Regions from separate parts of the Homo sapiens genome. Here region 1 is linked to region 2. The links come from fine-mapping of genetic effects on gene expression. A gene starts in region 2. The other region holds a variant in brackets. All regions are shown on one strand. Distances are from middle to middle. Region 1 has its middle 36 kb from the start of LINC00477. Region 2 holds the start of LINC00477 (long intergenic non-protein coding RNA 477).

What was found. PIP is the estimated chance that this variant, and not a neighbour inherited with it, causes the effect.
Region 1: its variant is fine-mapped to the expression of LINC00477 in testis (GTEx, PIP above 0.99).

The regions. Positions count from the first base shown.
Region 1 is chr12:24,547,187-24,550,106 of GRCh38, reverse strand. It overlaps a transcript of SOX5 not described here. Among named protein-coding and RNA genes, the nearest start is that of LINC00477, 36 kb to the left of the region's middle. The variant A/G (reference allele first, on the strand shown) is at 1,249.
Region 2 is chr12:24,582,868-24,585,787 of GRCh38, reverse strand. It overlaps LINC00477 (long intergenic non-protein coding RNA 477), which reads left to right and starts at 1,620. Exons shown (of 4, transcript NR_029451.2): 1 at 1,620-2,832. It also overlaps the pseudogene KNOP1P1.

The DNA.
Region 1 (2,920 bases), 36 kb after region 2:
GCTTGCTCAAAGTAGCATAGCTAGCAAACGGCATAGCTGAAACTTGAACCCAGAGTGGACTGATTCTGAAGTCTGAGCTCTTGCTCATTGTAACATAGAAAAATATATTTTTAGTCCTGTTAAGTCATCCCTCAAAATGATGCTTGCATTTTCCCCTTTCTTCTATATTCACCCCTCTCACCCTGAATCATTGCAAGTTCCCCAAACTAGTATCTTTCCCTCGACTCTGCTCTATTTACCACTATCAGGCCAATCCTCCTGACATGCTGTTAATATTTAGAAATATTTCTCCAACATTCAGAGTGCCTGGGTACCACACATGGATGCGACTAAGATTCTTAAGTCTGGTTTCTAAGAGCTTCTTCAATGTCTCCAACTATCTTTTCAGGCTCATGTTTGAGACCTTCCTTTCAAGAATAATTTGCTTGTGATCTGGTTCAAGCTGAACAGAGATTTTCAGATGACTCCCAAACTATCTGCAACACATCAGCCCTATTAACTCTTCTCAGAATGCTCATACAGAAGCCATGCCAGTGCACAAAAGCCACTTCTGACACCTGGCCCTGTCTGACTCATGGATTTCTTCCAGGATTGCTCTTTCTATCTGCTTTAAACCTCCTTGTCAATTGACTTTCCTTGGCTCCCAATCCACTTTGCTCTGTATTTTTGCTTTCTCTTTTTGTTTTGTTTCTTCATTCATTCAGTAATCAATAAATATTTCTGGAGTGCCTACTATGAGCCAGACACCATGTTAACTGCTAGAGATTCAGTGGTGTGTGGAACAGGCACACACTTTGCACACAAGCAATTAAAGTCTATTAGGGAAGATCAACATTAATCAAATAATTATCAGCGTTTATGATTGCAAATTGTGGAACTGTATTTCACAGAAGATTATACAGCATATGAGAGAAGTTTCTGATGTATTTGAGGGAGGAGCAGTTAGAGGATGCTTACATGAAAATGTCACATTTTAAAGATGGCTAATGAGGTAATGAGGACAGGAGAAAAAAATCTTTCAAGGTGAAAGGAATAGCATGTGTAAGGTTTCCAAAGAGGGAGGGAAAAGAGTGTGTTCTTAGAATTAGAAGGGCAGCATGGCTGAAGCAGAGTGGAAGGGAAATAGATGGAGATGAGGTTGTAGAGAGAGATTGGGATCAGATCATTAAGCTTTTTCAGCTATGTTACAGAGTTGAGTCTTCATAATAACGGTGATGAAGAACCCATTGAGGTTTCTCAGGACAATAA[A/G]ATTTGTGCCTACAGCCTGTAGATCACATTTAAGAGAGGCAGGAATGAACGGATTTGGGTGAGCTAGAAAGGAGGCTATTGAAATGATTCACACAAGAGAAACATGGTGGCTTGGACTATAGCAGTAGTGTTAGAGAGGAAGGCAAGAGGAAGGATTTCAGAAACAAACATGCTGTTTCAGATGCTTTGTACCACCCTCCATCCCCATTCCACTAACCTATTGGGATACTCCCTCTGGTCATCTCCCAGTGTTTCCATGTTTCACAGCTTTAAAAAGTAGGTGCTTAAATCCATACTTCTAGTTCCTGGGGACTCTGCTGGTGGGGAGAAATTTGACACAGAACATGTAGTGCCTCGTGTCTACATATACATACTTGCCTTCACCTCTTTATGTCTTCCTTTTGTACAACGCTTCTCCCTCGTACAGATATTCTAAAATCCTGCCCATCCCTTAATTTCCAAATTACATTTTACTCTTTCACAGCATTCTCACCAAATATACTAGCTGAATATCTCTCACTCTGATCTTATGACACTTATATCTGTAACTATCTTTATGGCTTTCAGCATCTATTGTAGCATATTGTAATCATGTTGTGAGCATGTCTTATCTCCTGAGAGATATTGTGAGTTTGTGTCAAGGGACATCGATGCTGTAGCTCAATATTAACACTGCTATTTTGGATTTTCCCTTCTAGCTGGGTTATTTACTTGAGCCCTCTGAGTCTGATTCCTCATCTGCAGAATGGGTATAATTACATTTACTTTATGAAGCCATTATGAGGAATTAATGATAGAATGAATGCAAGGTACTTAAAAAAATCTCCGGCACATAATGAATCTCAGCATACAATAGCAGTTTATGGTTATAAACTTTATTCTTTGAAGTCAGAACCCTGTGTCTTATTACTACTTTTCTCTACTTGTAACTCAGTGAATATTTGTTGAATTCAGATTTGAATTTAAGTCTCATTTCTGCCAGGGGATACGAACACTGTATAAATAAATTTTGATACTTGTCTGTGAGAACTTCAAGTTGATAGGGGAGCTAGTAACAGAAACTGGTTATTTGTTATTGGGATAAGTATAGTGATAGAGAAATAAACCCAGATAGAGTATTTTGAGAGCACCGAAGAGAGGTTGGAGAAGGTTTTCTAAGACAACTTATGCCTGAGCTGAGTATTTTATTAATCAATTAGATACCATTAAAATAATGTATGCACATAATATAAAACCCAAGGCTATATAATAAAATAGCATTTTTGTCCTATTGACAACTATACCCACTCCATTTCTACTGCTTTCAATTCTGTGTTTCTAAGTAAAATGTTTATTCCTTGTTTTCCTTGTTTAAAAAAATGTTAGATAGGCCGGGCGCGGTGGCTCACGCCTGTAATCCCAGCACTTTGGGAGGCCGAGGCGGGTGGATCATGAGGTCAGGAGATCGAGACCATCCTGGCTAACAAGGTGAAACCCCGTCTCTACTAAAAATACAAAAAATTAGCCGGGCGCGGTGGCGGGCGCCTGTAGTCCCAGCTACTCGGGAGGCTGAGGCAGGAGAATGGCGTGAACCCGGGAAGCGGAGCTTGCATTGAGCCGAGATTGCGCCACTGCAGTCCGCAGTCCGGCCTGGGCGACAGAGCGAGACTCCGTCTCAAAAAAAAAAAAAAAA
Region 2 (2,920 bases):
ATTTGTTGAGGGTGTTTTATGGTGAAAATGTGGTCTGTCTTGGTAAATGTTCCTCAGAAGCTTGAGATGAATGTATATTCTGCTGTTGAATGGAGTAATCTATAGATGTCATTAGATCAAGGTGATTGATAATACTGCTCAGGTCATCTATAGCCTTGATTTTTTTGCCCACTGGCTCTATCAAAGGGATGGTGAAGTCTCCACCCATAACATTGACACAGGGATGGTGAAGTCCCGCCTCTAACAATGGATTTGTCTAGTTCTCTTTTCATTTTTATTAGTCTTCTTTCATGTATTTTGACACTCTTGGTAATGCTTCCATGTTTACGATTGTTGTCTTCTTGGAGAATTGTTCCCTTTATCCTTATGTGGTACCCCTTTTTATTCCTGATAATGTTGCTCATTCTGTAGTTGGCTTTGTCTGAAATTCATTTAGCTACTCCAGCTTTCTTTTGATTACTTTTAGCATGATATATCTTTTTCTATCCCTTTACTCTTAACCTGAGTGTTTAAGTTTAAAGTGGGTTTCTTGTAGATAACATATAGTTGTATCTTGTCATTATCCACTATGACAATAGTGTCTTTTATTGGTGTATTTAGACGATTCACATTTAAGGAATTATTGATACACAGTTGACATTTGAACAATACAGGTTTGAACTGCGTGGCTTCTCTTTTTTTTTTTTTTTAGTGTTTGGGTGACCCCAGGCAATTTTATTACTTTATCCCTGAACTTCAGTTGCCTCATCTATAAGATGGGGATAATAATAGCACCCATTTCATAATTATGAAGATTAAATACATTAAGGAAAACACTAGTATGTGCCTAGCACCTGGTAAACACTCAACAAAGGTTATCTGTACATATTGATATCTCAGACAGGGACGGAATGTTTAACAGAAAACAGGAGGTTTTAGCCACTCACTTGTTCTCCTGGCTCCGGAAACATGAGCTGCCCCGCCCCAGTTTGTCCAAGCCCATCAAGATAGTTGTCCTTGTCCTTAATCTCCACAGGTGTTCAATGTGAGCCAACTGTCAGATGGCATTCATCTTCACAATTGAATAACCCATTTATGCCTAGTGTTCCATTATTGGAACGCTAAGCTTATGGGAGTTATTTATATCCTACTGTTCAAGGTCATTACCAAGATCTGACTTTTCACACAAAATAATTTGCAACCTCCAGCATAAATGGGATAATTGTGGCAGTTTTGGGGAGACGAAACTTTAGAGTTTAATCTTCCAGCTTGACTGACTTGGAAGCATTCCTGTCAATATAAAAGATCTTGTTCGGGGCGGTGGAGAAGCCGAGGCCGGCTCCGCGGCTGTACTTTCAGCTCATGGCCAGGCCATATTCCCGCTGCAGGCTCTGCTGCAGACTGTCGGCCACCTTCTTACTGAGGGCCACGTTGGACCTTGCAATCGGGCTGGGTGGGGCGGGAGGGTGGGGGTGGGGGTGGGGGCTAATCGAAGGGGACAAGTTTTTGAAGCCACCCGTAAGTTTGAGAAATTTCAGTTTCTGTTCCTCGTTCTCAAAACCAGCAGTATCCCACTGGCCAAACTGGCTTCCCGTCCACTTCCTGGTTTCAGAAGCTTCCGTTTTGCCTGACTGGCGATCAGTCTCTTCTTGCAAGGCCTTTCGCCCCTGGTCTATGTGCGCCTAGTCCATGTTGCCTTTCTTTTCCAACACCACCTCCAAGTCCGTGTCTGTTTCCTCCTTTCAAGGGTCTCCTGCTACCCCACTCTCTTTCCTTTTCTTTTTCTTCCTTTGCAGAGCCGGCTCCTCAATGACTGGCTGCTTTACCTTCTTCTTGGACTTCATCTTTTTCTTCGCGGGGGTTTTAGGGCCATCTCCTATGGGGATGTATTCCGGAGCCTCCACTTTGACTGGCTTCTTTTTACTTCGTTTCCTAGGGCAGCTCTCCATGGACCTGGAGGGCTTGGAGTGGCTTGGGAGGGCGTCTCCCTCCTGGTGGATTTTTTTTTCTTCTTCGCCTTCCCACCGTGTTCCCTGGGGCTCTTGTGCTTCCGCTTCTGCCCCAAGGCTACCTGTTCCTCACCCTCCTTCCCCACTGAGCAAGTGTCCACAGCATCCCCGACCTCGCAGAACCAAGGGTCCTGGACTGAGAAAGCTGTGGGGTCCTGGGCCCCCTTTTTTTCCTTCTTAAGTTTTTTAAGCTTCTTGCCAACTCTGGTTTCCTCCTCACCCTGTCTGGGGTCTGGGGAGATTTTCACCCCAGAGGCATGGGAGATGGCCAGAGATGACTTCCTTTTCTTCTGCCCACTGAGGAACTCCAAATGGCCAAGCACCTGGTTCCTTGGGCTGGATGACTTCTCTGTCCGTCTGGCACGCAGCGTGGTCTCAGGTTCTACGTGCCCCTCGCAAAGGGTGCTGACACCCTTCTCTTTCTTCTTTTTCTTCACTAGAGGCATCTCAGGTGCCTGCCCGTGGACCACACTCTTAGAGGGGGCTGTGGCTTTTATAGGAGAAACATGGGCAAAGTAATCATCATTGTTTAAAATTGAGTATTGAGTCCCTGGTTCTTTGACCACTTTCTTCTTCTTTTTCTTCTCTGGGATCCCAGGGCCCAGGTCTACTTTCCGGTGGGCCAAACTTCCCCGCCTCCACGTGAGAGCCGGCTCCGCCGTGACCCGGAAGTCCACTTTCGGGTTGCACGCGTGGCTTCTCTTACACACAAATTTTCTTCCACTTCTGCCACTCCTGAGACAGCAAGACTGATACCTTATTTTCCTCCTCCTCCTTGGCCTACTCAACATGAAGATGATGAGGATGACGACCTTTACGATGATCCACTTCCATCTAATGATTGGTAAATATATCTTTTCTTCCTTAAGATTTTCTTAATAATATTTTCTTTTCTTTAGTTTACCTTATTGTAAGAATCCAATATATAATAT